Homo sapiens: one gene and its partners. The protein of the gene in region 2 interacts with the protein of the main gene of each other region in a pairwise test. Each region holds a gene or a part of one and is shown on either strand. Other genes may lie near its edges.

The links.
Region 1: the proteins of SYK (region 2) and GAB1 interact in binary tests that used the Homo sapiens proteins (3 or more experiments, as listed by UniProt).
Region 3: the proteins of SYK (region 2) and CD22 interact in binary tests that used the Homo sapiens proteins (3 or more experiments, as listed by UniProt).
Region 4: the proteins of SYK (region 2) and MET interact in binary tests that used the Homo sapiens proteins (3 or more experiments, as listed by UniProt).
Region 5: the proteins of SYK (region 2) and CPNE8 interact in binary tests that used the Homo sapiens proteins (3 or more experiments, as listed by UniProt).
Region 6: the proteins of SYK (region 2) and LRP1 interact in binary tests that used the Homo sapiens proteins (3 or more experiments, as listed by UniProt).
Region 7: the proteins of SYK (region 2) and BLMH interact in binary tests that used the Homo sapiens proteins (3 or more experiments, as listed by UniProt).

The regions. Positions count from the first base shown.
Region 1 is NC_000004.12:143,413,198-143,417,429, reverse strand, and holds part of GAB1 (GRB2-associated-binding protein 1), read right to left. Parts: intron 1,954-4,232; coding exon 1,659-1,953; intron 1-1,658. UniProt on the Homo sapiens protein: Adapter protein that plays a role in intracellular signaling cascades triggered by activated receptor-type kinases. Plays a role in FGFR1 signaling. Probably involved in signaling by the epidermal growth factor receptor (EGFR) and the insulin receptor (INSR).
Region 2 is NC_000009.12:90,842,908-90,847,139, forward strand, and holds part of SYK (tyrosine-protein kinase SYK), read left to right. Parts: intron 1-950; 5' UTR 951-991; coding exon 992-1,408; intron 1,409-2,526; coding exon 2,527-2,687; intron 2,688-4,232. UniProt on the Homo sapiens protein: Non-receptor tyrosine kinase which mediates signal transduction downstream of a variety of transmembrane receptors including classical immunoreceptors like the B-cell receptor (BCR).
Region 3 is NC_000019.10:35,335,385-35,339,616, reverse strand, and holds part of CD22 (B-cell receptor CD22 isoform 1 precursor), read right to left. Parts: intron 3,582-4,232; coding exon 3,276-3,581; intron 1,863-3,275; coding exon 1,596-1,862; intron 1,450-1,595; coding exon 1,186-1,449; intron 1-1,185. UniProt on the Homo sapiens protein: Most highly expressed siglec (sialic acid-binding immunoglobulin-like lectin) on B-cells that plays a role in various aspects of B-cell biology including differentiation, antigen presentation, and trafficking to bone marrow.
Region 4 is NC_000007.14:116,751,721-116,755,952, reverse strand, and holds part of MET (hepatocyte growth factor receptor isoform b preproprotein), read right to left. Parts: intron 599-4,232; coding exon 438-598; intron 1-437. UniProt on the Homo sapiens protein: Receptor tyrosine kinase that transduces signals from the extracellular matrix into the cytoplasm by binding to hepatocyte growth factor/HGF ligand. Regulates many physiological processes including proliferation, scattering, morphogenesis and survival.
Region 5 is NC_000012.12:38,895,390-38,899,621, forward strand, and holds part of CPNE8 (copine-8), read right to left. Parts: intron 1-4,232. UniProt on the Homo sapiens protein: Probable calcium-dependent phospholipid-binding protein that may play a role in calcium-mediated intracellular processes.
Region 6 is NC_000012.12:57,197,479-57,201,710, reverse strand, and holds part of LRP1 (prolow-density lipoprotein receptor-related protein 1 preproprotein), read right to left. Parts: intron 4,167-4,232; coding exon 4,047-4,166; intron 3,556-4,046; coding exon 3,368-3,555; intron 3,247-3,367; coding exon 3,041-3,246; intron 2,500-3,040; coding exon 2,311-2,499; intron 1,835-2,310; coding exon 1,686-1,834; intron 1,270-1,685; coding exon 1,176-1,269; intron 1,013-1,175; coding exon 896-1,012; intron 678-895; coding exon 558-677; intron 215-557; coding exon 92-214; intron 1-91. UniProt on the Homo sapiens protein: Endocytic receptor involved in endocytosis and in phagocytosis of apoptotic cells. Required for early embryonic development. Involved in cellular lipid homeostasis.
Region 7 is NC_000017.11:30,250,529-30,254,381, forward strand, and holds part of BLMH (bleomycin hydrolase), read right to left. Parts: intron 1,706-3,853; exon of another isoform or gene 1,546-1,705; intron 1-1,545. UniProt on the Homo sapiens protein: The normal physiological role of BLM hydrolase is unknown, but it catalyzes the inactivation of the antitumor drug BLM (a glycopeptide) by hydrolyzing the carboxamide bond of its B-aminoalaninamide moiety thus protecting normal and malignant cells from BLM toxicity.

The DNA of each region.
Region 1 (4,232 bases), on a different chromosome or scaffold from region 2:
TCTCAAAAAAAAGAAAATAATAATAATAATAAAAAAGTACCCGAGGTAGAATTCCACTTGTAAAATTCTTGAGCCCTCTAGTCACTCAGCTCTTTCCAGGATAGGCACCCCAAATCTCAGTCCCTCATTCAAGATTTGTAAGCAACTGTCCCTGGGCCTTTTTCACTCAGAGCCTTACTGCCCCAGTCAAGTAAAATTCGATTCCTTCTCTGGGTCTGTTCTTTCCTAAGTCCCTAAGCCTGGAGGGTTCTGCGTCCCTCCTTTCATTTACACAGAAATACTGTTTCTTTCAAAAGCCTACATTTTGCAATTTATTTTCCTTTCAGAAGCTTTCCTTCACTACCTCTTACCCAAACCTTGAGCCCCTCTTTCTTCTTCCATGTTCCTTGTAGGACCTGTGCTAAGTAATTCATTTGTTTGGTACTTGTTCATTGTGTTTTGTGACTGATTCTCACTTGCATTTCATAGGTAATGATAATTACCTTGGCTATTTCCTAACTTCATAACCTATTTATGCTTGAGGTTGCAATTTTTTGAATGTTTGCAATCAGACCTTGGCGATGACCTTGAGCAGTGGGATATAAATAACTCCCACATGCTTAGCGTTCCAATAATGGAACACTAGGCATAAATGGGATAATCTAATATAGTTTTTTGAGACGGCATCTTGCTCTGTCGCCCAGGCTGGAGTGGAATGGTGCAATTGTGGCTCACTGTAGCCTCCGCCTCCTGGGTTCAAGCGATTCTCCTGCCTCAGCCTCCTGGGTAGCTGGAACTACAGGCGTGTGCCACCATGCCTGGATAATTTTTGTATTTTTAGTAGAGATGGAATTTCACCATGTTGGCCAGGCTGGTCTTGAAGAACTCCTTACCTCAAGTGACCCATCTGCCTCAGTCTCCCAAAGTGCAGGGATTATAGGTGTGAGCCACTGTGCCCGGCCATAATCTAATATAGTTTTAAAATATATTTTTAAATAGCACCTAAAGAATTGGGTTGAGCTACATAAAAGTGCTTTTTTTTTGAGACGGAGTCTCGCTCTGTCGCCAAGGCTGGAGTGCAGTGGCGCGATCTCGGCTCACTGTAAGCTCCACCTCTCGGGTTCACACCATTCTCCTGCCTCAGCCTCTGGAGTAGCTGGGACCACAGGTGCCTGCCACCAAGCCCGGCTAATTTTTTTTTGTATTTTTAGTAGAGACAGGGTTTCACTGTGTTAGCCAGGATGGTCTTGATCTCCTGACCTCGTGATCCACCCGCCTCGGCCTCCCAGAGTGCTGGGATTGCAGGCATGAGCCACCGCGCCCGGCCAAATGTGCTATTTTTTAATAGGTGAAAAATAGTAAAATATCAACAGTGTTATATGGTTAAACTGAATATTTATATTGGAATTCAATAAATGTTCTTAAAATGTCTTCTTGTCACCTTTTACTTCAGGATATTTAAAAACTGCCCCAATATGTCTAAGTCTGTCGCTCTAAAACTGGTAAACAGCTTCTCCCCAAACTAATTAAAGGATTCAGTGCTTTTTCCAAATGTCAAGTTCCTATTATAAAAATAAAACATTATATTGTGTAACTAAAATAACAAAGAATTGTATGACATTTCTGGAAATGTAGCAGAAAAGAAGAATTCAAGTTGAATAGTAATATCTTGAACTTACCTTCTTCTGTTGGATTAAACCCACAGATGTCACAAATACAACGAACCCACTTATTCATCTCCTCCTCGCTGTCTGCTACCAAGTAGAAAATCCGGTCAATAGTGTTGATATCAAAAATGTAGCTGTTTTCAAACTCTTTTTTGTTAAATGTCAATCCAGCATCTACTTGTTGACATAAATTTAAATCAATAATACGAATAGGCTTCTTGGCATGATCATTTTTGTAATATTCCAAAACATCTGGATCTCCAGTTAAACGGCCACTGCGTAACACGAACCATCTCCTCTTCCATGCCTAGAAACAAAACAAAAATATCCATTCAGTATTAACTTGAGATAATGTTTTCAAGAAGATGCACATTTATCAAACTGATTTTACAAATGCATTGTTTAGAGAAAGTCACAATATGTGTGTGTTTGTGTGTGTGTTTTTACCACAGGATAATCTGCCACTCTGAAAAGCAACGTTTACTCATAACTCAATTAACTTAATAATGTATATATATATTCAGTATGTTCGATTAAATCTCCTACTATATAATATTGAGGCAATACATCAAGGAGGATTCAGTTTTTACTAAATATGAAAAAGTCATGGTTTCAACAAATGGTGTTAGGAAAACTAGAAATCCATACGCAAAAGAATGAAGCTGGACATTATGCTAAGTGAAATAAGCCAGTCATAAAAAGACAAATATTGTATGATTCCACTTATATGAGGTAGTTCAAGTAGTCAAATTCATACAGACAGAAAGCAGAATGGTATTTGTCAGGCCCTGCGGAGGGGGAGGGGTGGGAAATGGAGAGTTATTACAGTATTTAATGGGCCTAGAGTTTGAGTTGAAGAAGATCAAGTTCTGGAGATGATGGTGGCCATGGTTGCAATGGTGCTGTGAATGTATTAATACTTAATGCTAGTGAATTGTATATTAAAAATAGCTAAAATGATAAATTTTATGTTATGTATATTTTGCCACAATTTTTAAAAAAGCAACAGATTTTCATGCATTAATATTATGCCATAAAGAATACACATAAAGCTGCTTCTTCATAAGACTCCTACAGATTTTAAACACTTAAAAGATTTCTCTTTTTTTTAGGTGCGGTGGCAAGGAGTAGGGAGGGGGAAAGGTTTTGAAGCTTTTCTGGCTTCTTGACTGGGAAGCAATTGATTGTGTCTCTCTTTTAGCCACACAGCCTGTTGTTCAAAGACTATACGAGTAAGACCTGTATTCTTGAGTATGGGATTTAACTCTTTCTAATATTTCCCCTCCTCTTCCCAACAAACATACATGGGCAATCTGTAATACACTCACCACATACCCCCTCCACAAGTTCTGGTAAATTTTGAGTTTAATACTATACCTAGAGAAGCCTAAAAAATTATTTTACTATCACCCTCCCTAAATCTATGGTCACCAAATAATAAAAGCAGAACCAAATGACAAACAGCCTTCCTTATCAGCCTTTAACCCCAACATGTGTGCCTGGAAACAAACTTACACCTTACTCCTCTTTGAAATTCTTCCTCAGGGAGGCAGCTAGACAGAAAAGAGGCCTATTTTAGCAAGTCTCAGTCATTTACTAAGAAACATTCTCTGCTCCAGATTCAACATTCTAGGTAAGACTACCTCAAGAGGACACTCTGGGCCTGGGTGCAGTGGCTCATGCCTGTAATCCCAGCACATTGGGAGGCCGAGGTGGGCAGATCACCTGAGGTCAGGAGTTCGAGACCAGCCTGGCCAACATGGTGAAACCCCGTCTCTACTAAAAAATACAAAAATTAGCTGGGTGTGGTGGCAGGTTCCTGTAATCCCAGCTACTTAGGAGGCTGAGGCAGGAGAATCGCTTGAACCCGGAGTTGGCAGTTGCAGTGAGCTGAGATCACTGCGCTCCAGCCTGGACAGAAGAAGACTCCTCCTCAAAAAAAAAAAAAAAAAAAAAAAAGGGCAGCGGGGTGGTGGGGATGCTCTGGGAAGTGGAAGGACTCGAAAACCCCCAGTGGAATAAAACATTCCCTTTGCTACTTGTGGGAAGAAAAACAAGTATATAATTCATTATTCCTACCTTCAAAGAATTGACTAATTGTGGAAAAAAATATTTAACATACATGAAAATACTTGAGACTACAGCAACCCAGGCAAAATGTCTGCAGAGGTATTGCTACATGAACAAGCATTCCTCTACAGAAAAATTTAGGCAATCCTTTAACAAGAGGATGACCAGAGATCACAAAGGCCTAAAAACATTATATAGGTCTTTAATCATCAACATTTTAAATTAACTTCTCATTCTTCACGCAGCTCAAAGGAATAAGTATATAATTTGTGTCCAGGGAAGGCAGGGTAGAGTCCTATAGATGTTTTAGATAATATTGAAAAGTCATAAAGTGTTGGATTCACATGATTTTAGCACTGTTTTCTGGACTATAAAAATCCATTCATTGAATATGCATCTACTTACTGCAAAATAAATAAATATCATCTCTTAGTAAAATTATCCCTCTATGGATACTTCCCTCTCAAGCAGTAAGCTTTAAAAAGTAATGCAGAAGTAAAGCAAAAGAATATAAAA
Region 2 (4,232 bases):
TTGGGGCTGGCAATATGTATCCTTCTAGTTTACAACCATGATTGAGAGGGAATACTCTCCATGTTAAATATGCATTGGCCGCCTTTCTTTTTGCTTCTGAAATGTATTTATTTACTGCAAGCAGTGTCTCTCCTGTGTCAGATGTCCTCGTGGGCTGGGAACCGGCACTATCTCTTTAGCACGGGCCCTGCAGATGGGAAGTGGCGTTGCCCAGGAAGTGGTCTGGAGAAGCGGGGAGAAGACAGCCTATGGGCCCCAGGCCTCGGGAGCCAGGGAGGGTGTCACTCTTCATGTCTCAGGCAGTGGCTTGTTGCTATCATAGCCCCGGGCTGGAGGTGGGAAGGCCTTATGGTGACCACAAGTCACAGTTCCGTGTGGGCCCTCAACGTGGCCTCACTTCACCTCTGGGGCTCAGCACCAGCGTGTGACTGACTGCTCGAGGCAGCGTCTCGCAGCTCAGGTGGGTGAGGTGGTGGTAGCGTCCTCCTTGGTAATATCACTGTGATGAGGAGCAAGGCTTCTCTAACATTGTCTGGACTCAGGAGGAGCAGTTGGTTTGTTCTCATGTAGATTCTGCCTCCTGTATGCTGCTGGGACCCTGAGGGTCAGCCCAAGAGTCCTGTTTTGCAATAGCCCTTCTGTTTGCTTCTCTTTGCGGTATGTTTATTTTTAGAATTCTTTGTCTTTCCCCACTCCCCCCAAAAAAGAATTATTTAATTTGGTCACTTCCATCAAATGCTCTGATTTTAGCTTAGTTAGAAGGCATGCTGAAAACTGTAATGATGATGTGAACAGAAAGACAACTGTGTGTTGGGAGGGCCAAAGAGGGAAGTGCCTTTGTTCAGAGATGGGAGGGTTTGTCTCCACTTTGAAAGGGTTTGAGTGGTTTTAGCAAACGTTCCCTGCCACGTGGGGTCCTCACCAAAGTTCTCTGTCTCTGTCTTGCCCAGGTGGACACCTGCGCAGGTGTGTGCCCTCCGGCCCCTGAAGCATGGCCAGCAGCGGCATGGCTGACAGCGCCAACCACCTGCCCTTCTTTTTCGGCAACATCACCCGGGAGGAGGCAGAAGATTACCTGGTCCAGGGGGGCATGAGTGATGGGCTTTATTTGCTGCGCCAGAGCCGCAACTACCTGGGTGGCTTCGCCCTGTCCGTGGCCCACGGGAGGAAGGCACACCACTACACCATCGAGCGGGAGCTGAATGGCACCTACGCCATCGCCGGTGGCAGGACCCATGCCAGCCCCGCCGACCTCTGCCACTACCACTCCCAGGAGTCTGATGGCCTGGTCTGCCTCCTCAAGAAGCCCTTCAACCGGCCCCAAGGGGTGCAGCCCAAGACTGGGCCCTTTGAGGATTTGAAGGAAAACCTCATCAGGGAATATGTGAAGCAGACATGGAACCTGCAGGTGGGCCACAGCTGGTCCTGCTCCCTGGGCCCAGGGGGCCCTGTGACCCCACACAGACTTCCTGGCTACATGCAACACATGTGCCTATGTGCCCTGTGTGCCCAAATAACACAACCATCTCCTTAAGCATCAATTTTGGCCAAAAAATGCCTCTCTCTGATAAGAGCCTTTCCTCTTTCACAGCCACAGCTGAGAGGGTGGGTCCCTTTGTGCCAGCAGTGTGGGTTTCTCCACAGCAGGGAACCACTGTTACCCAGTGCAAGGAGGGCCTTTTCAGAGAGGCATTGATAGGTGTTGATTGGTTTCTGTTTATCTGACAAGGTCCTACCATACACACTGATAGGCACTTGATTTTATGGCTTCCTAATATCTCTTGCAGAACTTTCTGTGTCAACACTCATATAGTTGCATCACCCGTTCTTTGGCTATCTGGTATCACCTGCTATGCACCACAATTTATTTAACTAGTACCTATTGATGGACACATTTGCTGTTTATGAATAAACGCTGCTAACAACATTGCTCTAGACCTATCGTATACTACACTTGTATGCAACGTCTGCAGGATAAACTTTGAAAGGGTTGGGATTGCCACAGCAAAGGATATGTGTGTTTATTTTTTTATTTTTTATTTTTTTGAGACAGAGTCTTGCTCTGTCACCCAGGCTGGAGTGCAGTGGCATGATCTCAGCTCAATGCAACCTCTGGCTCCAAGGTTCAAGCGATTCTACTGCCTCAGCCTCCCAAGTAGCTGGGATTACAGGCATGTGCCACCACACCTGGCTAATTTTTGTATTTTTAGTAGAGATGGGGTTTCACCATGCTGGCCAGGCTGGTCTCGAACTCCTGACCTCAAGTGAACCATCCTCCTTGGCCTCCCAAAATACTGGGATTATAAGCGTGAGCCACCGTGCCCGGCCATGTTATTTTTATTTATACACTTGAAAGTACTTAAGTAATGTGTAAAGGTCTTTCTGGTTTTATTTACTGAATGAATGAGTGAATAAGTTTTGATCCTGTTTTACCATGCCAGGACTCGAGATAGATTGGAAATGCCTTCTGCATCATTTTCATTTTTCCTCGGTATGGTTTACTCTGCTTTGCTCTCCATGTGGCAGGGTCAGGCTCTGGAGCAGGCCATCATCAGTCAGAAGCCTCAGCTGGAGAAGCTGATCGCTACCACAGCCCATGAAAAAATGCCTTGGTTCCATGGAAAAATCTCTCGGGAAGAATCTGAGCAAATTGTCCTGATAGGATCAAAGACAAATGGAAAGTTCCTGTGAGTATCGTGCCTTCCCCCTCACCTCCTGCCACCAGGCCTGTGTGGACAATTGGGAATAATTCAGCTTCCTTGTGACTGGCCCCACATGACCCTGGGAAGAGGCCATGCATTGCCATTTGACAACATGCATGCTGGCCTGTTCTAAAGACATTTCTAACCAAAGCTATCACTTGTGACCCAGTGTTTATTTTGCCCAGTCTAACTCTAAAATGAACACTCTTTTTGGGCACCGAGGGATGTAATATTTAAAGAAAATGTGATTCAGCCCCATATTCTCCTTTTAATGGCAAATTATAGGTTGCATAGCACATTCTGTGGTTATCCAACTAAAATTAAAATACTGCAGTTTTTTTACTCAAACTACCCCCTTGATCTCAGACTTTACTTCTATTTTACATGAAACAAGATGCCAACAGGAAAGATGTTAAGGAAAAGTTCCTGGGAGTAGCATCCATGAGTGGTGAGTGCAGGTTTGAAGACTTCAGCCTTAGGCCCACAGTCATTAGAGGGTCTGTCTGAATCCTGGGTTCTGTTTGCTATCCTCAGTGGTTCAGTGTAAATCTAAATTGTAGAAGGTTCTGAGATACAGGCCAACGTGGTCAGTCAGTTGTCCAGAGAAGGTAAAGAACTGTCTTTGGGAGGTGTCAACCTTGTTCCCTCGAGGGGGTCTGGTCAAGGTGGCTCAGTGGGGCAGTTGTCCCTGGGGGAAATGATCCCCTGGTCACCTCTCAGTGTCCCTACAGAGATGCTTACCTTGGAAACATAACCAGAAACAGCGATGCAGCCTCATGGTTTGGCAATTGGTGAATCCCCAGCCGACTTCGTAAACTTTTCCTAGATTTAGAAGCGTTTTCTCTGCCTGTCCATCTATTCAAAGGAATTTCCTCAGACTTCACTGTCATACCTTGTATTTTAAAAATGATCTTAGCTGAGTGCAGTGGCACGCACCTGTAGTCCCAGCTACTCCTGGCAGGAGGATCGCTTCATCCTCACTATGATCTCACTATCGTTTGAGGCTAGTTTGAGACCAGCCTGGGCAACATAGTGAGGCCCTGTCTCAAAAAAAGAAAAAAAGAAAAGAAAAATTGACCACAATACTCTTAAAAAAAAAAAAAAAAAAGGAAGAAGGAAGAGTGGCCCAGGTTGCCACGCGGCAGTGCCTAGAGTGATGGTCTTTAGTGGGATGCAGCCCCAGCCAGCAGCAGAATGCTGTGGGGAGGGAAGACATTGCCCCTCAGTGGAGGCACCTATGGCTATTTTTGCTGAGGTTTGGCTTCTTACCATCTCAGCAATAATTTCCAACATGAATGTCATGGGACCATGCACATAGCATCTTGGCATGTGAAGTCAACCCAAAATAGCATAATCCACACGATGAGGCTGGCCAACTTCTGCTGGTTAAGAAGCCTGCTCATAGCCTCTTTGGCCACGAAGCTGTTTCTTTTTTCGGAGTTGTCTATTCCCGAAAACAGCAGTTGCATCCTTCATGGCCATGACTTTTGCTCTCTCCTTCCTTTCTGGGAGATGTATATAAACCCCATG
Region 3 (4,232 bases), on a different chromosome or scaffold from region 2:
CCCAAAGTGCTGGGATTACAGGCGTAAGCCACCATGCCTGGCCAATCCATTCTTTTTTTTGAGACAAGGTCTCACTCAGTCACCCAGGCTGGAGTGCAGCGGCATGATCACAGGCTCACTGCAGCCTCTACTTCCAGGCTCAGGTGATCCTCCCACCTCAGCCTCCTGGGTAGCTGAGACTACAGGCATGCATGACCATGCCAGGCTAATTTTTTTTTGTAGAGATGGGGTTTTACCATGTTGCCCAGGCTGGGCTTGAACTCGTGGCCTCAAGTGAGCTGCCTACCTTGGCCTCCCAAAGTGCTGGGATTACAAGTGTGAGCCACTGTGCCCAGCTCACACCTATAATCCCAGTCCCAGCATTTTCTTTTTCTTTTTGAGACCCAGGTCTTGCTCTGTCACCCAGGCTAGAGTGCAGTAGCAGGAACATAGTTCAGTCTGCAGCCTTCACTTCCTGGGCTCAAGTGATTCTCCCTCCTCAGCCTCCCCAGTAGCTGGGACCACAGGCACGCACCACCATGCTCAGCTAATTTTTGTATTTTTTTGTAGAGATGGTATCTCGCTGTGTGGCCCAGGCTGGTTTCAAACTCCTGGGTTCAAGAGACCCTCCTGCCTCAGCCTCCTAAAGAGCTGGGATTGCAGGCGGGAGCCACCGCACCTGGCCTCATTCATTCAACAAGCATCTACAGGCCGGGTGCGGTGGCTCACGCCTCTAATCCCAGCACTTTGGGAGGCCGAGGCGGGTGGATCACGAGGTCAGGAGATCGAGACCATCCTGGCTAACACGGTGAAACCCCGTCTCTACTAAAAGTACAAATAATTAGCCGGGCGTGGTGGCGGGCGCCTGTCATCCCAGCTACTCAGGAGGCTGAGACAGGAGAATGGCATGAACCCGGGAAGGTGGAGCTTGCAGTGAGCCGAGATTGTGCCACTGCACTCCAGCCTGGGAGACAGAGGGAGACTCCATCTCAAAAAAAACTAAAACACAAAAAAACAAGCATCTACCAAGCACCCTCCATGAGCCAGGCCCTATGCTAGGAGCTGAGACAGCAGTTGTGAACAGGAGACCCTGGCTGCTCCTTGCTCTTGACTCCAGGACCCCGGAATGCCCTGCACCCCATCTGCCTTCCCCGTTCCCTGTGTCCATCTTCTCTCCCTAGAACCAGAGGCTCCGTGGCTACTCACACTGGACATCCAGCTCAGCTCCCGGGCCCCTCTGTCCAGTACCAAGAATGTTTTCTGCCACACAGGAATAAGTCCCAGCGTGCCAGGGGAGGATCTTTGGGATGTGGACTTTCTCCTCTGTCCTTCCCTGCATTTCTTTCCCATTGTGGTACCACGTGTAATTTGTTGGAAGAGGATTGGCCAGTGACATGCAAAGAAACTCGACTTGACTTCCCTCCACAGCCGGTGAGTGGAGGATCTGAACCGTGGAAGGTTCCGGGGCATCTGGAAGAGGGGGCAGAGGCGAGTGGAGGGGTGAGGAGAGCACCCCCAACCTGTGCACACGGCCCCGAGAGCCCCCGTGGCTCCCCTCTCCGGGTCCACCCCTGCTACCTCCCTGCCTGGCCTGTCCCCAGCTCCGAGGGGCTCACACTGCACTTGCAGGAACACTTCTTCCGACCTTCCCGGGCCCACGTCATTGGAGACCTGACAGCAGTACTTCCCACTCTGGTCCTTGGTCACTTCGCGCAGGTTTAGCGTGAATGTATTCTGCTTCTTCAGCGAGGTCCCATCCTTGAGCCAGGATACCGTCGTGTACTCCGGGTTGCTGCTGCTGACCTCGCAGGTCATGGTCACAGAGTCCCCCTCCCTCACTATGGCATCACTGGGAGTGACCTTGATCTCCAACTTCGGGGTGTCTGGAGGAGCAGAGGGGCAGTCGGGGAGGGGGCGGGGAATCCTCAGAGGGTGGAGGGTGTGGAAAGTGCTTTTATTCTGACAAAGCCATGGCCTGCCAGTCCCTTCACCCAGGTGATGGTCACAGCCTCCTAACTCGGCTCTCAGCTTCCCCCTCCCACTTCCTCTACTTCTTGGTCTCCACCAGCAGCACGCAGGGTTCCTAACACCATCTACCAGACCTCGCCAATCCTGCTGGAAACCACGAGCGGGTTCTGTGCTTTGCATAGAATCCCAAACCCTCACCTCAGCCCTCGGGATCCAGAGTCCTGCTCCATCTCCTGCCTCCTGTCCTACCATGTGGCCCTCAGAGGCGGTGAACTTCAGCCTCTGAGGTCCTCCCACCCAGCTGCTGCCTCAAAGCTTTGAACCTGCCCTTCTCTTTCCCTGAAATCCTCCTCTCCCAAATATGTGCCGGCCTCAGCCACTCCCTCCGTTCCAGTCAGCTTAAGTGCTCACCTTCTTTTTTTTTCTTTTTTTGAGATGGAGTCTCACTCGTCACCCAGGTTGGAGTGCAGTGGTGCGATCTCAGCTCACTGCAAGCTCCGCCTCCTGGGTTCATGTCATTCTCCTGCCTTGGCCTCCCAAGTAGCTGGGACTACAGGCGCCTGCCATCATGCCTGGCTAATTTTTTGTATTTTTACTAGAGATGGGGTTTCACCATGTTAGCCAGGATGGTCTCGATCTCCTGACCTTGTGATCCCCCCGCCTCGGCCTTCCAAAGTGCTAGGATTACAGGCGTGAGCCACCGCACCCGGCCTAAGTGCTCACCTTCTTAGAGAGGTCTCTCTCCATCACTCCCCTCTCTCGGCCTTATTTTTTTCCTAACACACATATCACTACCTACAATAGTGTTGTATATTTCTTTGTTAACATTGCTTTGTTCCAGATTCTAATGTCTTGGCTCATGCTCTGTATTTCTTTGGTAATCCATTTGTTGTCTGTCTCTTTCACTGCAGCGCTGGCTCCGCGTGGGGCAAGAGTTTTGCTCACTGCTGCACCCTGCCCACCGCCCCATGCCCCCCATTGGCAGCCGTAATAAGGCCTGGTACCTAGTAGGTTCATGATACGTATTTATTGAATGAATGAGGCACAAGATAATGATGCGAAAAAAATCCCCACCAAGAGGGGAACAAAAAGACCTAACCAGATAATCCCCAATTCATGTCATGGCTTGAGGATGGACCATTTTATTCTGTTAGGCTAGAGCAAATCTTTTTCCCGAAACACCAGGGCTGACAAGGCGGCGTGACCAGGGCTGGAGGATGCCGCCGTCTGTGCAGGCTTCCCCCTGCCCTGGGTGCATGCCCCCTGCGGGGCTGGGGAGAAGGTGACACAGACCTTGCCCTTCCCACAGGCATGCCGGGGAGACTCACGCTTCACGTTCAGCTGCACCGTGTCATTGGAGAGGAACTTCCCATCTGCATCCTGAAGCTGGCAGGTCACAATCTTCCCATGGTGACTCCACTGTGGGGAGAACTTGAGCTCGCTCCGGGTGAAGACAGACTTGATGGTCAAGGAGGTCGAGGTGACAGCAGCCTGCCTCATTGGAACCCCCTCTAGGAGCCACTGCAATTGGATCGGATACCCATAGCAGGAGAAATTCAGCAAGCAGGTCAGAGTGACTTCCTGGGACTCTTGAATTTCTGGAGGGAGCTGGATATGAGGTGGAAAAGGCCTTTCTGCAAAAGAACAGAGCCCGTGCAGGAGCCTGGGGGACTGAGGACGTGAGCGTACACCTGGCTTTAGATGTCCTGTCCCAAATCACCCCTCAGGAACCCCTTGCCACTTCATTCCACCTCTCTCCAGTCCTGCTTTGTTTTTTTGTTGTTATTGTTGTTGTTGTTGTGTTGTTGTTTTTTTGAGATGGAGTTTCCCTCTGTCACCCAGGCTGGAGTGCAGTGGCGCGATCTTGGCTCGCTGTAACCTCTACCTCCCCAGTTCAAGTGATCCTCCTGCCTCAGCCTCCCGAGTAGCTGGGATTACAGGTGCCCACCACCACACCCAGCTAATTTTTCTGTATTTCTAGTAGAGACAGGGTTTCGCCATGTTGGCCAGGCTGGTCTTGAACTCCTGACCTCAAGTGATCCTCCCGCCTTGGCCTCCCAAAGTGCTGGGATTACAGGTGTAAGCCACCACACCCGGCCTCTTTTTTTCTTTAGAGACAGGGTCTTGCTTTGTCACCCAGGCTGGAGTGCAGTGGCGCAATCCTAGCTCACTGTAGCCTCAACCTCCTAGGCTCAAGCAATCCTCTCACCTCAGCCCCCTGAGTAACTGGGACTACAGGCATGTGCCACCACACCTAGCTAGTTTTTTAAACATTTTGTAGAGAC
Region 4 (4,232 bases), on a different chromosome or scaffold from region 2:
GCTGCCTCACTACATTTCTGAGGTTTAGAAAGTGAATTTAAAAGAGAGGATCCATGCTGAGCTGTTTACTGATTTCTGTAGAAAAAGCCTTTGGAGACTCTACATTTGAAGACTCCAAGGATGAAGTGATCCCAACTAGTGCTACTCTTGCAAATCTACTCAGACAACACCTGAAGACTTGTCGCATAAATGGTTGAGAAACTCCCATTTCTGGCCTCTTCTCTTCACCTAGGCCATGTCACCTTTCTCTCTCTTCAAATCCAATGAGTAAATGGGATTACAAGAACAAAACAGAACAGACCCACAAGGCATGTGACAGGCCAAGACCCTTTTTAATTCAAGAGATGAGCTTCTTGAGCAATTTTAAAAGAAATATTCATTCAAAAACAAAACCTATTTTCCAAGCACACCCCAGCAAAGCATTTTAAGATCCTTACGTATTCATCGTGCTCTCACTTAAAGTCAAGGTGCAGCTCTCATTTCCAAGGAGAACTCTAGTTTTCTTTAAATCAAATTTATTATTCCTCCGAAATCCAAAGTCCCAGCCACATATGGTCAGCCTTGTCCCTCCTTCAAGGGGTGCACTATTTGGGAAAACCTACAAGGACAACATAGAACTTTTAAAAAAACCCAATATATTATAATTTTTCACATATATGGAAAACGAACAAACAAAATGTATATCCTTAAATAGTCTGAAATTCTTTCATTTTCCCACAATTTAGTAAAAATTTAATTTTCACTAAAGGGAAAAGGGTCACAAATTTCAGAGCATCTGGAACAAACATTAAAACTACATGACATGTTAATGAAACAAGTTGTTTTCAGGAGATCCAAAGATGGGACAAAGAGCAGATGCAGCTTGGTAGGAATAAAGGGGCTTTTCGAGTCCTTCCGTTCTTTCTTTCTTTTCTTTCTTTCTTTCTTTCTTTCTTTCTTTCTTTCTTTCTTTCTTTCTTTCTTTCTTTCCTTTCTCTGCTTCCTTCCTTCTCTTTCTTTCTCTTTCTTTCTTTCTTTCTTTCTTTCTTTCTTTCTTTCTTTCTTTCTTTCTTTCTTTCTCTCTTTCTCTCTCTCTCTCTTTCTTTCTTTTTCTTTCCCTCCCTTCCTTTCTTCCTTCTTTCTTTTCTTTTCTTTTTCAGACAGAGTCTGGCTCTGTTGTTCAGGCTGGAGTGCAGTGGCGTGATCATGGCTCACTGCAGCCTCAACCTCTTGAGCTCAAGCAATCCTCCCACATTAGCCTCCTGAGTAGCTGGGATCACAGGCGTGGGCCACCATGCTTGGCTATTTTTTTTTTTTCTAGAGACAGGGTCTCACTACGTTGCCCAGCTGGTCTCAAACTCCTGGGCTCAAGTGATCCTCCTGCCTTGGCCTCCCAAAGTGCTAGGATTACAAGCATGAGCCATTGGACCTGGCCCTTTTTGGGCCATTCTGAAGTGAATTCATCTTCTAGGGCTCTTTAGGGTAGGAGTAGAAACACGTTGGGCCCAGACTTTTACTTGCTCATAACTCTGATTGTAACTCTTCATCAGCCTTCGGACTGAGCTCTTATCAAACTCCTTCATGTGCTCTATAAGCCAAGGTCCAGCCATTATACGCCTTGCTCTGTGCACTGGCTGCGTGCACTACATTCTGGTTGCTATGGTATTCCCCACCCAGAGACAAAAGTTGCACAGTAAAAATACCTCATTTGGTATCCAGTGTTTGCCCAGTTGCATTCAGCAGCTAGCATAATATGAAACATATAGATGGTTTTGGAACACATATCTGCCAATAATTCATTCATTCATTCATTCATTCATTATTTACTTATTTACTTTTAGAGATGGGGGTCTCACTCTTGCCCAGTCTGCAGTGCAGTGGCATAGTCCTAGCTCACTGCAGCCTCAAACTCCTGGGCTCAAGCAATCCTCCCGCCTCAGCCTCTCTAGTAGACAGGACTACAGGTGTGCGCCACCTCACCCAGCTAATTTTTAAATTTCTGTAGAGACGGGGTCTTGTTATGCTGCCCAGGTTTCATTAATTATTTCTTAATAAAGCACCTCCTATGCACCAGGCACTAACAAATGAAAAGTGAATCTACTTCTTTTTACCTATTAGTTCACATTTATTAATGACTGAAGATTTTTCCTTGTTCTTTAAATATGGTCACTATTTGATGTATACCAGGCTGGTTAGTTGACACACTCAGCCTTTTAAAAATTATGTAATATTTAATACATGTGTTATGTTGTTTCTTTTAGAAATAGATAAAAACGGAACCAGAGAGGGCCCAAAATCAGTATTGTAACAATTTTTCCTAATTATCTTCATTGGTATTGTTTTATATCTCATTTTTAGGATTAAATTTTTCCCCCTGATGGTTGATGTTAAGCAAATAACAGACTCATTTTGTTATTGCAGACTCATTTCTGGTATGTTATCAATGGATTTATTGATAAACCTTGGTCAGTCATGATTTAAGACCGCATTAGGCACCTATAAAGTGTGTAAGATAATTGCTCTCAGGCTAAAACTATTAAAACAAAACACATTTCCAAGTTAAAAATAAGCTTCTTCTCAGCAGCTTTGTGACAATTGAGAAAGGAAATGCTCTTTTGGGGGTGGGGACATATTGTAAATTGTGCTGTAAAGTACAATGGTGGGAAAACTAAGATAGAGGCAACTCAAGAACCAGTAAAGGTATTTGCTAAAGCTCAGCTTGTGAACATCTAAAAGTGATTCTTTTACAATTAAGAAGGGCTTTTAGCCAAATTCAAACTTGCAAACATTTCCATCCTTCCTAAGTAAATAATTGCAAACCAAAGTCTTAATGTACCCTCGTTATCAAACCCCTTTAAAGTTTTAGCTTAAAGCTTTTATGATAGCCATTTTACCCATAAAAATCCATTACACTGTTGTGCCTTTCCTGAAAATTTACCTCATCCATGTCTAGTCAAATGAGAACTACTAGAAAAATAAATCTGTTTATTATTATTATGGTAGAAATCCAGTAGGAGAGAACAAGACATCCAACCCTCCCAGGACTCTCTTCAGCCTGAGGCAGTCACACAGCTGCTGCCGGCTCTTCTAATGAGGAGGCTTCCCCACTGAAAACGCTGCCCAAGGCTGATGTTGGCCTGATCCCACTGCCTACATCCCGTCTTTCTATGTAAAAACTGAAGTCTGTCACTCTACACACATCATTACCATCACTTTCTATAAAAGGCAAACGGATTGGGTGATGATTTGAGAAAAGACGCAGAGAGCTGCGCAACTGGGGCACTGGCAATAGGAAGAGATATTATAAGCCCTCTGCTAGACCCTCAGGATCCAAGAGGCTCGCTCTGCTTAGCTTTTCTCTCTGGGCTGGGCATTTTCCCCTTAGCTTATGGGGTAACCTTTACCCTTCTAGGGAAAAAGGAAGGAAGCAGTTGTGAACTACACACCCTTGGATAGACCCAACAATGGCTGGCAAACTCTGAGTTATCCTGAAGGGCAGAGAAACTCTGTGGGCAGGAAATGAGCGTCCGGCATAAAGCCACAGAGGCTGGGTCTCCTACCTGTCTGGATAGGGGAGATACAGCCACAAAAGTAGCCCTTGTCTTTTCACAGGTGAAAGATCACATCACTGATGGGCCCATTCCAACAGTATTTTAAATGATCATGCTTTCAAAACCCATTAGGATAAAACATGAGAAAACTAAAAAACAAAAACAAAACAGAACAAAAAAACTCCAAAAGGGGTCTCCTTTCCTCTTTAGTAGAACTCACAAATATATTTACTGGTGGCAGTATACTGCCTGCCTACCCTCCTATCCCTATATAATACTGCTTTTCTGAGTATTCTGATCAATGAATAGTTCTGTTGTCTCACTGGGGTTGAATTTTCTTTCTTTCTTTCTTTTTTTTTATTGAGACAGAGTCTCGTTCTGTCATCCAGGCTGGAGTGCAGTGGAGCAATCTTGGCTCACTGCAAGCTCCGCCACCCAGGTTCACGCCATTCTCCTGCCTCAGCCTCCCGAGTAGCTGGTACTACAGGCACCTGCCACCATGCCTAGCTAATTTTTCCTATTTTTAGTGGAGACAGGGTTTCACCGTGTTAGCCAGGATGGTCTCGATCTCCTGACCTCGTGATCTGCCCACCTCGGCCTCCCAAAGTGCTGGGATTACAGACATGAGCCACCACGCCCGGCCTGAATTTTCAACCTTACAAGATATGATAACTGCATCCTAATACATTCAGAATATATTAA
Region 5 (4,232 bases), on a different chromosome or scaffold from region 2:
TAGTCATTTCAATTAACTTTTCTTACTTTTCATTTGCCCAGACTATCACCTCTCTCCAGTATTTAGTTTTCATCTCACCCTGCCTGCTGATTTCTAGCTAAATAGTCTTCTCATTACTTAATTTCCTACATCTTCATTAGGTAACTCAGCATCAGAAAAAGATAAGAATCAATACTGGAAATAAAACATCACATGGTTAAAGTTTATGCCACTCCTATGAATTGCTCTACTCAAAGCTCTCACCAGTAGGGAACAGAAAAACAGGAAAGCATTCTGTGTTTTGCATCCTCAGAGAAATATATCCTTTGTGGTAGAGTAGTGTTGATATGATCTATTATAATTGCATCTCCTAAGCTTTATAATTTCTTTTAGTTACTAACACACTGGTATTGACAGAAAAGAGCTCCACTCTTCAAGCCGACAATAAAGAATTTATGGAAGAACAACATAATATAGCTAATGGTCATAAGCTTATGCTTAGGAATTAGACATATATGGATAGGAACTCAACTTTGCCACTTACTAGATACGTGACTTAAACCAAATTACTTATACTCTCTCTAAACCTCAATTTCTTCACTTGTAAAACAGGACATAACATCACCTCTTTTCAGAATTGCAAGGATTGAATGAATTAGCCCACATTAACCACTTTATACATTGTCTGACAAAGAGTTAGATTTTGAGATTAATTTAAAGAAAATAGATGGCAAATATCCAAAAGTTGCATGTTTCTTGGCTTCATTAAAATAGCTTATATTTGAATTCGTTTACTGTCTAATAAATAGAAATATTTGCTGGGGACTATCAGTGATATTTTGTTTCTTCAGAGTTTCAGAAAATCAGCTGATGATTCCCTCAGAAGGTCTGCAACATTATTCTTCACAGAATAAACCTGACAAAAACCCTCACAATTTGAACAAGAATGTCTGGTAGCTAATGGTCCTGGCTGGAGAGGCACTAACACTGAATGTTGTCATTAAGTTTGCCAATATTAAGGTATTGTGTATCAGGGAGTGAACATCATTGGTCCCTGGGTCAGGCACCTTTTAAATACATCCTATTTTATTACAGGCAATAACTACTTGCCTTACCTCAGCCTGTATTGGCAACTACAGCAGTATCTGTTTTATCATGCCCAACACAAAACAGCTGTCTTAAATATCAGCCCGTTGACTTTATTGAGCAGATACAAGAATGTTCTTTTGTTCTAAAACTTGGTTATTATAGCAGACTACCTCCTACCTGTCAAATCCCACATGACTGATTGTGTCTTGGCAGAAGTGGGCCTATGGGGTGGAATCTGTAGAAACTGAGTGTGCATTTACAAATCCACACTATTCTAACGACTGTTTTATTCCACACTCTCTCCACATTGAATTAATCAGCATGGGATAACATGCAGCTTTATCACTGTCACCTTGGTTCTATGTTTCTGTGGCTCCCCAAATTGACTATAAATTTTTCCAAAGTACAGATACCTTCTTCTATGTTGCTGTGTGCCACACAGTAAAATGCTGAAGAACCTGGGATAAGACTAATAGCCAGTTAGTGCTTTTCTTGTGACAGGCTGGGCATTGTACAGACTTTATTTCATTTACTCATCCAACAACCTTGAAATTTTGGTTTTTAAATAATTTCTATGTTACAGATTAGGAAATGAGGTTCCAAAAGTTGAAACAGGTTACCCAAAATAACATTCCAAAAAGGGATAAAAATGAGATTTAAAGACATCTGTCTGATTTCTAATTCCATTTTCTTGCTGCTATACTCTGCTGCCTCAAATTCTCATTAATCTCTAAATGCAACATTCTTATGGTAATAAAAGTATTTAGAAAAGTGCAGCCAGTAGCTTAGCCTTGATTCTGCGTATTTAAATAGGAATGGGATGGAAGTAACCAAAACAAGCTACCAAAATCCCTTTGAGAAGATAGCTTATTAATCATTTCAGTTCTAGAAAACTATCCCCAGGAAAAAAAAGTAACCAGAGATGTTAGATGTTTGTGATGGAGAATACTCATTTTTAACACTGTTTTGAATAGCAACTTTTTGAAATAAATTTTGGAAAACAAGGGTTAAGTTAAATAAACATAGTACAACCATATAATAGAATACTGCACAGACATGGAAGGTTATATTTCCAAAAACTAATAACAACAACATATTCATGATATAATATTAAGGGAAAAGTACAGGAAAAATATTGTATAGAATATATAATTATATTCTATATTAATACACACTATTAATATATTACATATTGTATTATGTATTATATATTATATGTGTGTATATATTAATATACACAGAGAGAATATAAATGTGATGCTATACATGAGACAAAAATGAACTCATTTGCTCATAGTTTGACGCAACAGCGAAGGATTTTAATTTTTTTATTATCTCTTTGTAATCATTGAGTGCTTAACTAATGTCACAAGCAGTGTTTTATCTCACTTACATGTATTAACTTATTTAATCCTCAAAGCAAATATAAGAACTGGGGGCTATTATTATCCCCACTTTACAGATGAGGAAACTGAGGAACAGATGTTTCAAAGATACTAAGTGGCAGAGCTAATCTAGCCCTACACCCACGTTCTTCAGCGCTAAGCAAAACTGGCTCTCAAACAGGCTAAGAACTGGATGAAATCTCTTTGAGAGGAATTGTATTTCTTCTCAGTCTTGAGTAAACTCAAATAGGGGATATAGGCTTCTGCCTGCTACAACACAAATAACAGACCTAAAGGAGCACAGCTATTACCACCCTCTCCTGTGGGATCCTGTCCTTTAAACTGCTTCTAGATTAGCATTCTCCACATACCAGGGCTGTTTTAAAACCCCTCAGGCCCCAAATGCTAAAAAACACAGGCAGACCAAAATACTGGTGGAACAACAATGTTAAGTAAGGTATTTCTCTGAAAAAAAAATATACCAGGGCAACTCTCACATTAAGACTTCAACGCCACAGTTCAGAAAGTTCCCAGGACAAATTTTACTGAAACTCTGGGGCTAAGACAAACCTAAATATGATCAAAAAAGGCACTACAGGGTGACTACAATCTTGAACCACAGGATCTCAAGAGCTGCAGAGACAGAATAGGATGTTACGGTCTACAACAACTTTACCCTCTGTTTACCTGTCATATGGCTCATTAACAGCACAACAGGCAGTCTAATATCCCTAGCTTATATAACTTAATTTATCAACTAACAACATCACTTGAAAATCTATTTACATAGTATCTCCAAATTTTTTGTCTGACTAAAGAAAGGTAAAGTATGCTAAGAGATGAACCAATGTGGACTAAGGTAGAGCCTCCAACTGTTGTGTTTGAATGCTTTGATTCCTTTCACCGCAGATCATTAGAACAGCACAGGTATCTACCTCAGACAGCCAACTCCAAAAAGGGTCAGACACTCTCTCTTGGAATCTAACTTTGCTTTCGCAGATGGTCAGTTAATCACTAAGTGTAGCTGGACTTGTAACATGTAAACTTGCAAAGGATATGCCACCAGTGGATGGAGAAAGAGGGAAAGAAAAATACAACTTCAAAGTAAGAGAAGAATAAAAGTGTAGAGAGAACCACATGAAAAGGAGAGGGAGAAATTTAAAAGTCTCTAAGTTCCTAACTGCAATATACCTGCTATCACAACTTTTATGGATTATAAAATCATACAACCCCACTTATTCCAGTAGAGAAGGAAGACCAGAGATAGTGCTGAACTTGACACTACCACTTCTAATAGTGACAGTCTAACAAGAGTGTTATGAACTGAATGTTTGCGTCCCCCCAAAATTCATGTGTTGAAATCCTAACCCCTAATGTGATGATATTAGGAGGTAGGGCCTTTGGGAGATGATTAGGTCATGATGATGGTGCCTGCCCTTATGAATGGGAATACTGTCCTGATAAAAGGAACCCCAGAGAGCTCTCTCACTCTCTGTAGGCCATGTGAAAGTACAGTGAGAAGCTGGCAGCCTGTAACCTGAAAAAAAAGCTCACATCAGAACCTGACTATGTTGGCACCCTGATCGCAGACATCCATCCTCTACAACTGTGAGAAATAAATGTATGATGTTAATAAGCCACCTTGTCTCTGGTACTTTATTATAATAGCCAGAACTGAACCAGACAAACAACAATAATTTTCTTTTATATAAGGCTTTACCTTTTCCAAAAGTCCATAAACAGTGATGTGCAAGTATATATTTTAAAACAACCTCTTCA
Region 6 (4,232 bases), on a different chromosome or scaffold from region 2:
GAGGGAGCAGCCACTGAGGGGGTCACACGTCGGGGTGGTGTGAGCAGCAGACACTGGGGAGGGAAGCTGGGCTCCAGGCCAGGCAACTCACTGCAGTTGGCGGGCTCATCACTGCCATCCACACAGTCATTGTCCCGGTCGCAGACCCAGACCCGGGGGATGCACCGTTTGGTAATGGAGCACTGGAACTGGTTGGGGGCGCAGGTCACCTCGGCTGTGGGGTGGGCAAGAGAATGAGGGCCCTCCCTTACACCTGCCACTCCAGTTCACCATCACTGTCTTCTCTCTCTTCCAAGCCCTGGCCTTGGTCCTGCCAGCAACTTCTTCGGAGGAAGGAACAGTTTATCCCCAGTTTTGGTGCTTTTTGTTTTCTGGATCTCTATGTCTCTATATCATGCATGATGATTTTTATGAGCAAAGCAAGTTACACCCAATATAATTTGTGTTGCCCATCTACTAAAGTTATTTGAGAGCCTCTCAAAGCTGTGGGGAGATTCTGCCTGCCCTGCTTCCGTGTCATCTCCCACCACCGGCCCACCACCACCTCTGACACTCACGGCAGTCCCTCTCATCCTCCCCATCTCCGCAGTTGTCCTGCCCATTGCAGCGGAAGATGCCGGGAATACAGCGGTTGGTGTTGGTGCATTTGAACTGACTGGGCAAGCAGACGTGGATGTCTGTGGAGGGAGGAGGAGGTGATTCGTGGCGAAGGGAGGACTCAGGGGCAGGGAGAGGGTGCCCATCCCTCAGCAGGGAGGACACAGGCTTGAGCCATAGGAATCCAGCCTGGAGAGCAAGCTGCCGTGGGCTGCAACTTCCCTGCACTTGAAAGCCCCAAATCCTGGGGCAGGGAAGATGCTGGGGAAGGAGGGAGGGTGGGCGGGCAGCGCCTTACCACAGTTGGCCTCGTCACTGTTGTCCTGGCAGTCATTGTCGCCATCGCAGATGAAGGCAGGGTTTGTGCAGATACCTGTGGAGCACTGGAACTGTCCGGGCCGGCACTTGAACTCAGCTGCCAGAGAGGGAGGCTCAGAGTCAGAGCGGCTGGGGTGGACACGGCCAGGTCCACTTGCAGGGCACCACAGCCCCAGCCTCTCCAGTGGCCATTCAAAGCCTCAGGAGTCAGGCCTCCGACACAGCTGGGGGCCCTCCTGTCACCCCCAGCAGGCACTCACGGCAGTCCGGGGGCTCGTCTGAGTGGTCCCCGCAGTCGTCCTCGGTGTCACACTTCCACCAGAAGGGGATGCACTTGTCGTTCTTGCATACAAACTGGAGGGCAGGTGGGGGCAAGAGGGGTTGGTGGGGGTCTGGGGGACTCAGAAGTCTTTCTTTTGAGGGGCTTGGATGTTTCAAAGAAGTTGAGGCAGGGGTCAGGGTGTTATGGGGCAGGTTGGGCTATGGTGAGTTCGGAAAGGCCAGGTATGGGGCTGCGTGGGATAGGGTGGGGAAGGCAGCACTGAAGCATGGCAAGGAGGGTCAAGGTTAGGGTGTGGAGGTGTCTGTGTGAGGTGACGGGGGTAAAAGTATTGCTGTGGGGAGACAAGAGGTAGGCAAGAAATGTGGGGGTGTTAGTGTGGGAAAACCAGATGCATGAGGACATTAGGACAGAGCAGGTGTTGGGGTCCAAGGAGGATTTGGGGGTTGGGGAGCGGGCACTGGTGATGGGGTCTGGGGGACAGCCTCACCTGGCTAGCCGTGCAGTTGGACACACAGGTGCGCCCATCGCTGCCCAGGTAGAAGTTGGTGGGGCAGGCACATTTGTGCCCTCCCCCGGGGGACAGCAGGCACAGGTTGCTGCAGCCACCATTGTTGACCTTGCAGGGGTGATTGGGCACTGCCAGAGAAAACGTCGTGAAATATGGTGACATTTTCTGGCCTACCAAAGGCTGCCTCACTCACTCTATCCTGGACAGAGGCGGGTGGGTCTGAACCCTGCCTCTTTTAGGAGGGAGCTGAAGCTGGAGATAGGAGAGGATTCTAAGGTCCCAGGATCAGGCCAGGCCTGAAGGCCAGCTCCCCACCTCCTCTGTGCTTCCCTCCCAGGGGCCGGCCTGCCTTCCTTCTGGGGGCTGGGCACCCAGACCCCCACTTGACTGGCCTCAGGGACTTGCTGCTGCCAGACTCCAGGGCTGGATCCAGGCCGGGCTGAAGCTCCCGGGAGCCAGACCATCCCCTGTCTAGACCCTCCTGGAGTCTCCCAGTGTCTGGCCAGGAGGGCTTGGTCAATGCTAGAGAAGGGATGAGCAGGAACTCCCAGGGACCCCGGTGCCTGGCTCACCGTTCGCCTGCTCCCACCCCTTGCCTGCTCACCGTCTGGCTGGCGCAGGGCATGGAAGACATGCAGGTCCATGGGCCGGTGCAGCGTGCTGATGAGGAGCGTTTTGTTGGTGCCCGTGGTCTTGTGGGCTCGGTTAATGGACTTTGTTTCCCAGTCGGTCCAGTAGACGTAGTCCTCAAACAGGGTCAGTGCAAAGATGTGCGGGATGTCCTGGCTCAGCACTGCAGGGCCAAGGGGCAGGCACAGTGCCAGTCAGCCGGAGCTCGGACAGGGTGCCGGCCCACTCCACCTCCTCAAGCCCTACCACCACCCTGAGAGGTGGGTGTCAGCCCCAGTTACAGATGGTTCATGGTACAGACCCCCCATGGTCTCACAGCTAACAAGTGTCAGAGCTGGAGTTCAAACCTAGACTGCCTCATGGCAAGTTCCTGCCCTGCCAGTGTATGGCTCCCCTCGGGAAGTGGGGAGCACTGCAGTTCTCAATCGCAGGCCTCCCACCCCCACCCTCCTTGGGGCCAGTCCTCCAGAACTGTGTATACAAGGGAAGGGCCTCTCCTCTTCCTTCCCAAGGGAGCTGGGTGGTGGCCAGGCTGGGGAAGCCCCCGGGGTGCTCTGAACCCCACACCCCAGTGAGTGGTGTCCTCAGGCCATATCCTCCGCTTTTTATGTCCACTCTTGCCCCCAAAACTTGATCCCCTGTCGCTTCAGACCTCCATCCCCACTGAGTCTGCTGTGCCTGGACAGCCTCACTGGCACACTGACCAACGTGGCGATTGGAGCCATCCAGGCTGGCAAATTCAATGTAGTCCTCGCGGGCGTCGGCCCAGTAGATGCGCTCAGTGACATAGTCCAGCGTCAGGCCATTGGGCCATGTGATCTTGGTGTCCACGATGACGCTGCGGCTGGACCCATCCATGCCGATGCGGCCGATCAGTGAATGGTCACCCCAGTCTGTCCAGTACAGGTACCTGGCGATGGGTAGGCAGTGAGCCCTGGGAGATCCCGTAACCCATCGCACCAGTGGCCTGCAGGGAGGCTGGGCTTGGATGCTGCTTTCAGGGGCTCCCCCAACCCTCCTCAGCCACATACCCATTCTGCACATCCACCACCAGAGCCCTGGGCTCACGGAGGCCAGAGCTGACCAGCACCGTCCGATAGGCCCCATTGAGCTTGGACACCTCGATGGTGTCCCGGCCTTTGTCGCACCAGTACAGGTTGCCACCCACCCAGTCCACAGCCAGCCCATCGGGGTTGCTGAGGCCTGTACGGTGTAGGACCTGCAGGAAGGGGCAGGGGAGGGAGAGCTCTGGGTGACCTGGGGGAGGACCTGCAAGCCTCTGTGAGGCTCAGCCTCCCCTCGTGTAAAATGGGGTAGAGCTCCCTCTGACAGCTCTGGTGGGAGAACCATGGAAGTAAAATGCCCAGTCCTGGGCCTGACACTGTGTAGGTGTCAGCAGAGGCTCTAGGAGAGGGGGCTCTAGGTGAATGGGACCACGCCCCAAGCCTCACAGTGCTTGGCCAGACCTCACAGGGAACTTCCTGATGATTAAGGAGACATGAGGCTGGCAGCGAGGGGAAGGGCAAGAGGAATCTCCCAGTCCTTGCTGTCTGGGCCCAGAGGAGAGTGAGCAGCTAGAACAAGCAGTCATATAGTGACTAGTGGAGTGAGAAGGAAGCAATTTGGGTTGGTGGGGCGGGAAGGAGAGACGATCTGAAAACAGTCATCTGAGGCGGGCCAGTGTTGGTCGCCGAGGGCCGCCCGCCTCACCTGCACATTGCTCCCGTTAAGGTGCATCCTTCGGATCATGCTGCCCTGGGTGGTCACATCTGTCCAGTAGATCATCTGCTCTCGGTAGTCAAAATCCAAGGCAACGGCGTTGTTCAGGCCCTGGATTTGGGGAGTGAAGGACAGCAGAAGTCGGTTGTGGCAACAGGGGCCACATTTGCATCTGGG
Region 7 (3,853 bases), on a different chromosome or scaffold from region 2:
CAATGTGATACCACCTTACTCCTGCAAGAATGGCCATAATTAAAAAGCAAAAAAATTACAGATGTTGGTGTGGATGTGGTGAAAAGGGAACACTTTTACAATGCTGGTGGGAATATAAACTAGTACAACCACTAAGGAAAACGGTATGGAGATTCCTTAAAGAACTAACGATCTACCATTCGATCCAGCAATCCCTCTACTGGGTATCTACCCAAAGGAAAAGAGGTCACTAAATGAAAAAGACACATGCACACGCATGCTTATAGCAGCACAATTCACAACTACAAAAACATGGAACCAACCTAAGTGCCCATCAACCAACGAGTGGATAAAGAAAATGTGATATTTATACATCATGGAATATTATACTCGGCCATAAAAAGGAAAAAAATAATGTATTTTGTAGCAACTTCGATGGAGCTGGAGGCCATGATTCTAAATGAAGTAACTCAGGAATGGAAAACCAAATATCATATGTTCTCACTTATATAAGTTGGAGCTAAACTATGAGGATGCAAAGGCATAAGAATGATATAATGGACTTTGGGCACTCAGGATGGAAGAGTGGGAGGGGTGGAGGGATAAAACAAAGACAACATACCAGTGTACACTGCTTAGGTGCTGGGTGCACCAAAGTCCCAGAAATCACCACTAAAGAACTTATCCATGTAACCAAAACCCACCTGTTCCCCAAAAACTACTGAAAGTTAAAAAAACAAAAACAAACAAATCTGTTCTTTCAGGAACAGATCTCCAAAAAACTTAAATGGGAAAAAAATGCTTTACCCGAGCCATTGCTAATAAGAAGAGCAAAATTAAAGTGAGAGACTGAAGTCCGTATATTTAAAACAAGAATGGGCTGCTGGGCCACAGACAGAACACAGAGCAAACGATGTGTACTGAATCAAGAGAAAGGCAGGCACACACATCCAAGGGCTCCCGGACTAGCAATGGCCATCAGCACCACGACTGTCATCTGACCGTATCTGCTACTTGTTTTATAGTAAACACTGGAGCCATTTTTCTCTGAAAGTTTGTATAAACCTAGGCCTGTGCTATACCATTTCCCACTACACAGGACCAAGAGAACGGAGAAGTAGGTGTTTCTAGCAAGAGGGTCCCCTAGTGAGCAGTTCTCATAAACCTAGGCCTGTGCTATACCATTTCCCACTACACAGGACCAAGAGAACGGAGAAGTAGGTGTTTCTAGCAAGAGGGTCCCCTAGTGAGCAGTTCTCAAGCCTCTTGGCCTCAAGCCCTGCCCTTTACATTCTTAAAATTATTAGGGACCGAAAACATTCTTTATGTGGACTAATATCTATCATTATTTACTATATCAGAAACTAAAACAGAAAGTTAAAAATATTAATTCATTTAAAAATAAGTATGAAAAATGAATATAAACAATATATTTTGAGGAAAAAAATTATATTATGTAAAAAAATATTTTTAGTTAAAAAAGTGGCATTGTTTTACATTTTAATGTCTAGATTTGCAGAAGACAGCTGAATTCCTGTATCTGCATCTGTGTTTAATCTGTTGCAGTATGTTGTTCTGCTTGAAGCAGATGAAGGAAATCCAGCCTCACACAGATATGTTGCTCAAGGGCAGACCCTGCACACTCCCTGAAAGGGCCCTAGGGAACCAAAGATCACACTTTGAGAACTGCTGCTCTTGAGGCAAGACTGGATTAAATTTAAAGGCAACAATACTGGTAAGTCTAATTTTGTATGCTAAAAGGTGTGACAAAGGGCATTATTTAACCTGAAAACACAATTGATTTGGTGAAGTCATCTATGCCCAATCCTGTTTTTCACCCGACAGAAGTCAAAGACAGATCATCCTGACGTGGCATAGCATACGTTTACCCTCAAAAACACTGTGGAGGCCAGGTGCAGTGGCTCACACCTATAATTTCAGCACTTTAGGAGGCCGAGGCAGGTGGATTGCTTGAGCCCAGTTGTTCAAGACCAGCCTGGGCAACATGGCGAAACCCCATCCTCACAAAAAAAAAAAAAAAAAAAAAAAAAATTAGCTGGTGTGGTGGCCTGAGCCTGTGGTTTCAGTGAGCCAAGATCACACCACTGCACTCTAGCCTAAACAGAGTGAGACCCTGTCTTGGGGGTGGGAATGGTAGGGGTTGGGAGTGCTCTGTAAAAGTGTTCAAGTGCTCCGACCAAGGCAGGTAAAGGAATGCACTCTTGTCTCCTGATAAGCTGGCCTCCTGGATCCAGGGCCCCTACTTTCAATAGACGAGAGACGGAAGGACAGTACAGGCCCACTCTGTAGCTACTTCTGGCTTGTCTTGATTATATATTCCAAACTTCCTGGCTTTGTTGGTGTCAGGACCTGGCCCTTAATTAACATCACCCACACCAGTGCCACCAGGTTCTAGCAACAAAAGTTCTGTCCGCTCAAAGGTCAACCAGTGCGTATTATTTAAAACTAAAATACTGCATCCTAAGTGAGTGCTTCCTGAAAAACTAAGCATCTGCCTTCCCAAAAAGGAGCTTTCAGCAAGCAGGAGAGCAGACTAGGGAACACCACACTGTTTGAGACATTAGTCGTCCCTTCCCTCACCACAATGCAGGCTGAATAAATCACTGCAGTGGCCCTGGGCAGTTAGGCAGGTGAAGGATAGAAGCAGATTCATGTAATAAAATTCTGTGTCCTTTCAACAATACTATCACCATACAATCAAATGAATCTTCAAAGAATGCTCCCAGAAGATGGACAATAAGTACATCTACACTATCTTGTTCCAAAAGCATATCAGATTAAGTCCTCACAAATTAAAATTCCTATCAATTGTAACCCACCCTTTCAATGTCCCTGCCAAGAGGACCCGCCTTGATTAGTCTCTCTCTTCAGGATATGAGTTCTTTGGGGACCCACAAAAACCTCACAGTCTAGGTAGCTGCCAAGTAATTGCGCCCTATGTAGATAATGAACTTGTGGCTGCCGTAACTGTTGACACTGTGTGTCTTGGAGTTTGACTGAGAAGATTAGGATCAGTGTGTCTGAAACCTGTGTAGGAAGCAGCAAAGCACCGGCTCAGGCAGGATTCGGCTGGCCCTTTTGACTTGCGGGAAGGTGCAGCTCCTAACCCTTAGACACACTGGCCGTGAGACACAAGCATTCCAAGGAAAAAAGAAAAGAAAACAAAATAAAAACCTGCTCCAGGGATCCCAAGGTTACACTGAGTGAAACACAGACAAATAGATAAAGTCAGCTTTAGGAACTAAGGTGAAATTAAATTTTGTTTAAACTTTAATGTCTTGTTTACATGCGATGAGAAAGAAAGAAAAGTGAACAGTCCTCAAAACAAAACACCTCAAACCAACCAACCAACCAAAAAACACTGGCAACGTTTCTGTATTTTGTAACAGAAAGGGTAGGGTCAGTCTGTAAAGGGAAAAACAGTGTCTGTGAATATAGCTGTAGACAGGTTAGGTGAAATTCATTCAGAAACAGAAGAGTTTCAAATGGGCTAGTTTAAGGGAAAAAAGACGCTTTACCTAAGAAAACTTTTTTTTCTGAAATCCCACCAGAAATGTAAGATTTAAGCCTTTCAGACTAAAGAATACAAAGAATATAAAATATATTTTAACATATTAGAAACATTTTATATTCTTTGTTGTCTTTGTTCTATGAGGAATTTCACCTCACTAACAAACTGTATGTGGCTATTATTTTTTGCCATTTTTAAAAAAGTTATGACAAAATGAAGGTATCTGTTCTGCTCTGACGGTCTGTCTGGCAGCATGGAACTAAGAAGCTGGACTACCAAGGCCTCATTCAGTCACTGCCAATCTTTCACCTGGCAGCTATAACTCAAGGTTGAAGAAAGGCT